Homo sapiens: one gene and its partner. The protein of the gene in region 2 interacts with the protein of the main gene of each other region in a pairwise test. Each region holds a gene or a part of one and is shown on either strand. Other genes may lie near its edges.

What was found.
Region 1: the proteins of ODF2 (region 2) and SVIL interact in a two-hybrid assay, tested with the Homo sapiens proteins (one study listed by BioGRID).

What each region holds. Positions count from the first base shown.
Region 1 is NC_000010.11:29,519,688-29,523,707, reverse strand, and holds part of SVIL (supervillin), read left to right. Parts: coding exon 1-257; intron 258-1,072; coding exon 1,073-1,298; intron 1,299-4,020.
Region 2 is NC_000009.12:128,469,506-128,473,005, forward strand, and holds part of ODF2 (outer dense fiber protein 2), read left to right. Parts: intron 1-1,802; coding exon 1,803-1,963; intron 1,964-3,407; coding exon 3,408-3,500. UniProt on the Homo sapiens protein: Seems to be a major component of sperm tail outer dense fibers (ODF).

The DNA of each region.
Region 1 (4,020 bases), on a different chromosome or scaffold from region 2:
TGAGGAAGCAGAAGCATCCTACCCCATCCTGAACCGAGCCAGGGAAGGAGACAGCCATAAGGAATCTAAATATGCTGTTCCCAGAAGAGGAAGCCTGGAACGGGCGAACCCTCCCATCACCCACCTCGGGGATGAACCGAAGGAATTTTCCATGGCTAAAATGAATGCACAAGGAAACTTGGACTTGAGGGACAGGCTGCCCTTTGAAGAGAAGGTGGAGGTGGAGAATGTTATGAAAAGGAAGTTTTCACTAAGAGGTAAGTGACCAGTGCCCCTAAAGCTTTAGAAAGCCACTGGGTTTTAGTTTCTGCTTGATTTGTCCTGTGTCTATGATGGCTTTTAACAAAGTTCTATAGGCAGTTTACAGCTAGTATTGGTTAAAAGTTCAGCGGGAATCCTATTCTTCCCTGGATCTGACTAGAGGATACATCAAGTTTTCAGCAATAAAACTACTGGAAGAGCTTTCACACATCTTCATGGAGTTTCTGTTGACTTTGGTCACTCACACAATGGCCTTCTGAGCTGCTTAGTTCTGGTGGCCCCTTTTAGAAATTGATGACCCCAAAGGTCCAGGCTGGGTAAGCACAAGGAATTCAGGAAAGACTTGACCCCAGTCTCTGAATCGCTAGAGTGCTTCTTCCTGCATGCCTGTTTTGCAGGCTAGCAAGCTACACTGCGTGGGCCCTTCATCCTCTTTCTACGTTTGTATGAAACAGTACAGTGTAAGTTATAATAGGGGTTTGCGTTTGTGAGTATAGCACATTTGAATGTTAAGGTATTATTTTGGAGAATAGAACCATTCTGGAGTAAATAGTTAAAGCTGACTTCCTGTGTCTCGCACACAGGAGAGAAACCAATTGCCACGAAGCATTTTGCTGTGTGGGTAACCCTCCAGGAAGTTTGGTTTTCTCACAGAGTGTAGCGTGCTGCAGATTTGCATAAATCCCAGTGGATTGGGTCACCCGCCGTGTGCCCACGGATTGAACCCTGAGAGCTGCACTGTTGAGGGCGAATCGCTGGAAGAATGTTTGCCTGAGGAGTTCAGTGCTGATGTTGCTCTTTTCCTTCCCAGCGGCAGAGTTCGGGGAGCCCACTTCCGAGCAGACGGGGACAGCTGCTGGGAAAACTATTGCTCAAACCACAGCCCCCGTGTCCTGGAAGCCCCAGGATTCTTCGGAACAGCCACAGGAGAAGCTCTGCAAGAATCCATGTGCGATGTTTGCTGCTGGAGAGATCAAAACGCCGACAGGGGAGGGCCTTCTTGACTCACCCAGCAAAACCATGTCTATTAAAGAAAGGTAATGAGATTCGGTGAGCGAAAAGTAATTCTCTCGGGGAGGAGCTTACAGCTTGCTTTTAGAAAACAATCTCGGTGATGGGCAAAGAGATGAAATCATACATTCAGCTTCTAACAGGACTGTGCTGTTGTCCTGGAGTAATTCTAGGAAGCTGAGGTGTTTGAGAGTGAACTGCCTTTGCTCATGAGCCTGGTTTGGTAATGAGCCTGGTTTGGACAGGGCTGGTTCCAGACTCAGATGAGAAAACAAACAGAAACAGACTTCTGTTTTATTTATTTGTTTCCACTGTCCCAATATCTTTTATAATATTAAATTCTTGGACTATCTAATGACAGGAGCTGAAATCTTGGCTCTTCCCCTTTTAGATACACAGGGTTCATACTGAATGCACAAACCACTTGTGACTTTGTGTAAAATATGTGTAGAGGGAGTGAAGATAAATTTACATAGAGGGCATATATCTTTGGACTTAGAATCCAAGTTTTGTTTCTTTTACAGATTGTAAAATGGATGACTTTTCTGAACTGCATTTAGAAATTGTATGTCAGGTAATAGCTTGAAAGATTGCATTTCAGCATCAAATAACACAGTAGCCTAATTTCTTTCAAAAGAATGACGTAGGGTGCAGAGGAATATATTTAAATTAGACAGATACAGAGAACTGGAAGTAAATTACCTTGGGGATGTGTTTTCCTTGTTAACCCTTAACCACAGATGAATTAAGCAGCAAAAGATGCAATAGTGGGAATAAATTCAGAGTTTGATAGCAGAGTAGGGTGACTAAATAAAAACGTATTGTACTGAGGTGATGGACATTCTAAATAGAGGCTTGATCACTATGCATTTTATATGTGTAACAAAATTTCTCATGCACCACATAAATTTGTACAAAAAAAGGAGAAAGTATTCAGTAGGAAAAAAACATGATGGAATAGTTGATAGGAAAACTGGGTGAAGAAAAATCTTGTCAACTCCATATTAGGAGAACCATTTCCATCGCCTGTTCCCACAGTTCTGCCAACCTCCACCCTTCCTCAGCACCTCCCACCACACGGAAGTCTGCAGGCTTCACTGACCACTCTTATTTTTCTAGATACATTTCAAACTGCCTAAGACTATACTAAACCACAATGAAAAGTCTTCTTTCTTTCTTTTCCTTCTTTCCTTTTTTTTTTTTTTTTCTTTTTGAGACTAAGTCTTGCTTTGTCACCCAGGCTGGAGTGCAATGGGATGATCTTGGCTTACTGCAACCTCTGCCTCCCGGGTTCAAGCGATTCTCCTGCCTCAGCCTCCCAAGTGGCTGGGACTACAGACGCACACCACCACACCCAGCTAATTTTTTGTATTTTTAGTAGAGTTGGGGCTTCACCGTGTTAGCTAGGATGATCTCGATCTCCTGACCTCCTGATCCGCCTGCCTCGGCCTCCCAAAGTGCTGGGATTACAGGCGTGAGCCACCGTGCCTGGCCCCTTCTTTCTTTTTTTTTTTTTTTAGAGGAATGGTCTTCCTCTGTTGCCCAGACTAGAGTGCAATGGTGCTGTCACAGCTTCACTGCAGCCTCGAACTCCTGGACACAAGTGATCCTCCTGCCTCGGCCTCCCCAGTAGCTGGGACTGCAGACACGTACCACCATGCCTGGCTAATTTTTTCAAAAAGATTTTTTGTAGAGTTGGGAGGTCTCACCATGTTGCCCAGGCTGGTCTCGAACTCCTGGCCTCAAACAGTCCTCCCACCTCAGCCTTCCAAAGTGCGGGGATTACAGACATGCACCACCACACCTGGCCCTTCTTTCTAGTTTTAAGCCAAGCTTCTTGAACATTATTTGTAAAATAATAGATGCTATCTTTTTCAACTGACAAATTAATCACATTGTTAAATCTGACTTACTTTCTCCTTTACTTACTTAAAATTCATGATAAGTTAGACCTGGCAGGCTGAGGGGCATAGGGAAGGGGCAGAGGGGACAGTGCAATGAGGAGAGGGATGTCTTCAATCGGGGAAGCAGTTGGGCCTATTGAGGCTTGAAGTTCTCTTCCACGAAAATGGGGCTCAAAGAGAGTTTCATCCCAGAAACCCAAATATTGACAACTGGTTAGGTGAGGAAGAAGAGAGATCATTTAAGGAAATTAACAATAAATATCACTTATACACAAGTTCTGATGTTTTACACATGAGAAAATATCCCTGGGGTATTCCCCAGTGGGAAATACTAATATTATGCCCCCTTCTTTCAAAGGCTTTTAAAGGAGCCTTCCCATCTTTGGGAATATTCTGTCCATCTGGACTTAGGACTTTTGATGAAGAAGTCCTGTGTCTATCCACTAAGCAATAATTCCTGATTTACTTACCTGTTTTTTGGTAAATTTTAGTTGACCTGTATTTTTCTGAAAGCTTTAATCCTACTGTAAAATTCTCATTTTTAAAAGTGAGATACTGGAAAGACGTAGCTTCTTAGCTTGGGCTTTGTGGACATGTAAGGCGTTCAAGGATGGCTGTAAAGTTTCTGTGAACAGCCCGGAAGTGTATTCAGAATTGAATGGGTGAGCACACACACCTGCTGGCTAACAGAAGCCATAACTTATCATGGTCTCCAAGAGATCCCTGAGCCCAGTCTGTTCAGAATCATGATAGAAAGGAATGCTTGATTGATATTCAGCTATTCAGTTTGTTAAAATACATTTATGAAAGAACAAGGGACACTTTATTTAGCAGCTATGCTTGT
Region 2 (3,500 bases):
TAGCTGGGGCAGCATGGGATCCCATCCCACCAACAAGGGCCCTCTCTATTGAGCATGTAGCTGTCCTGGTGCTCCACATGGGTGGTCCAATTTGAATTTTTACAACAGCATGTGAAGCCAGTGGTGTTACTGTCCTCATTACAGAGATGAAATACCTAGGAAACTAGGGCCTATGCCTTCCGCTTTATATAAGGTTTAACAAAAACAGGCCGGGCATGGTGGCTCACGCCTGTAATCCCAGCACTTTGGGAGGCGGATCCCCTGAGGTCAGGAGTTCGAGACCAGCCTGACCAACACGGTGAAACCCTGTCTCTACTAAAAAACAAAAATTAGCCATGCGTGGTGGCGTGCACCTGTAGTCTCAGCTGCTCAGGAGGCTGAGGTGGTAGAATTGCTTGAACCCAGGAGCCAGAGGTTGCAGTGAGCTGAGATTGTGCCATTGCACTGTAGCCTGGGCGACAGAGAGAGTCTCTGTCTCAAAAAAAAAAAAAAAAAAAAAAAAAAAAAAAAAAAATATATATATATATATATATATATATATAAATAAAAAAATTAACAAAAACAAAGCCCCAAAGAGGCCAAGGAAGTTTGTCCTCAGTTGCCGTGCTCTCTCTTGGGGTGGGATGTGACAATGGAATTGGAAATAGAACCTGGAAGTCCAAGGTCCCCAACTAGGAAATTGGCAGAGTTGTCATTAAAATCCAGGCCTTAGACTTGGATTGCTATGTCAGCCTATGTCTTCACTGCTAACACGACCTGTGTCTTTAATCCTCCACCCTGTACTCGAGGTCCAGGGAACCTCCTGGAGAACCTAGGGCTGGCTGCCTAGAATAGGCCCTTCTTGGCCAGGCGTGGTGGCTCATGCCTATAATCCTAGCACTTTGGGAGACTGAGGAGGGCAGATCACTTGAGGTCAGGAGTTCAAGACCAGCCTGGCCAACATGGTGAAACCCCATCTCTACTAAAAATACAAAAATTTGCCAGGCACACGCCTGTAATCCCGGCTACTTGGGAGGCTGAGGCAGAAGAATCACTTGAACCCAGGAGGCAGAGGTTGCAGTGAGCTGAGATCGTACCGCTGCACTCCAGCCTGGATGACAGAGTGAGACCCTGTTTCAAAAGAAAAAAAAAAAAAGCCCTTCTTCCCCTATAACTCAAAGTGCAAGAGCCTTTTTGTGACATCTCTCCTCCTATGGTGTGCCAGCCAAACCACGGTTTGCAACCTGGCTTCGTTCCCAACCCACAAGTCACTGGGGCTCTCTGTACTGAGTTTCCTCATCTACAAAAAGAAAATCAGCATCTCCCAGGAGAGTCAGTCTTCATGGCAGTTAACTGAGATTGCACCCATAAGGCCCTGGCATGCAGCCTGTGTAGTTCTCAATTGGAAGGCTCCTTATTTTTTTGTTTTTGTTTTTTTTTTTTTGAGATGGAGTCTCACTCTTGTCCGCCCAGGCTGGAGTGCAGTGGGCACGATCTCGGCTCACTGCAACCTCTGGCTCCTGGGTTCAGGCGACTCTCTTGCTTCAGCTTCCAGAGTAGCTGGGATCACAGGCATGTGCCACCACATCTGGCTAATTTTTGTATTTTCAGTAGAGATGGGGTTTCACCATGTTGGTCAGGCTGGTCTCGAACTCCTGACCAAAAGTGACCTACCCACCTTGGCCTCCCAAAGTGCTGGGATTACAGGCGTGAGCCACCACGCCCGGCCGGGGCCTTATTTTGGTCCAAAGCATTGAGCCTAGCAATGTGGCATAGAGGAAGGACCTCCCTTCAGTGGCCCCTGCCTGGGTCCCCCTGCTCAGGTCAAGATGCAAAAAGGTGAGCGCCAGATGGCCAAAAGGTTCCTGGAGGAACGGAAGGAAGAGCTGGAGGAGGTGGCCCACGAACTGGCTGAGACTGAGCACGAGAACACGGTGTTGAGGCACAACATCGAGCGCATGAAGGAGGAGAAGGACTTCACCATGTAAGGTGGCTCCTGCTCTGTCCCCGCTGATCTATTCCTCCCTACCAGGCTGCCTTGAGCCCTGGGCAATAATGGAAAGCAACGTAGGAGGTGGGCACAGGCACTGTGCCTGTGCCCTGGAGCCTGTTCAACAGTCACACAATTAATTACAGTTAATTACCTGGTTGTGCTTATGATTTGTACTATGAGGGAAAGGGAGGACCCCGTGGATTGTGGTGTGGGACTGGGTAGCAGGGAACTGTTTCTGGAACAAGTGATATTTAAGGGGTGTCCTGCAGGATGGTTAAGCATTCGGCAGGTGGGTGCTAGGGAAGAAAGCACGCTACTCAGTGGGAACATCTTATGCGAAGGCCCCAAGGTGGGAAAGTGTTTGTAGCTGAGAAATGGAAGGCAGGCCAGAGTGGGTGGGCAGAGGATAAGGGGGCCACATAGGTTGGCAGGGGGCTGGCTCTCAGCAGCCACTTTGAGGCATTTGCATTGAGGGCATTTGGAAGCCATGGAAAGGATTTATTTTATTTAATTAATTTATTTGGCCGGGCGTGGTGGCTCACGCCTGTAATCCCAGCCCTTTGGGAGCCAAGGCGGGCAAATCACAAGGTCAGGAGTTCGAGACCAGCCTGGCCAACATGGTGAAACCCTGTCTCTACTAAAAATACAAAAATTAAGCCGGGCGTCGCGGCGGGCGCCTATAATCCTAGCTACTCTGGAGGCTGAGGCAGGAGAACTGCTTGATCCTGGGAGGCATCTCAAAATTTTTGAGATGGAGTCTCGCTCTGTCATCCAGGCTGGAGTGCAGTGGCGTGATCCTGGCTCACTGCAATGTCCGCCTCCTTGACTAAAGTAATCCTCCTGCCTCAGCCTCCCAAGTAACTGGAATTACAGGTGCCCACTACCATGCCCGGCTAACTTTTGTATTTTTAGTAGAGATGGGGTTTTAGCTGTTGGCCAGGCTGCTCTCGATAACACCTGATCTCAAGTGATCTGCCCACCTCGGCTTCCCAAAGTGCTGGGATTACAGGCTTTAGCCACTGTATCCAGCCTACAGCCATGGAAGTTTTAAAAGCAGGGAGGTGGCCTGACTAGCCTTGGCTGCAGTGTAGAGAAGAGGTAGAAGGGCTCAAAATCGTATCTGAAGATGGTGCGTAGGAGGGCGTGACAGTGGAGGGGGGCAGTGCAGAGATGACAATGGTGGCTGTTTGAGAGAAACAGGGCCACAGGTAGCTAATGTCTCCTGGTGTGGAGGCCCTGGTCTGGTGCCCAGGCAGATGTAACTTCTGGCCCTGGTCCTTTCTGAAGGCCACCCAGGCCAGAAGGGCTGTCCCTGCCCCCTCCCCTACTTTTCCCTGACCAGAGGTGAGCCCCCTAGGGCATTGTGAGGCAAGCCTTGGATCTCTGGGCATGCGGGGGCCTGGGAGGGCTCACAGAGCCGTCTTTCTGGCCCCAGACTTCAGAAGAAACACCTACAACAGGAGAAGGAGTGCCTCATGTCCAAGCTGGTGGAGGCGGAAATGGATGGGGCTGCGGCTGCCAAGCAGGT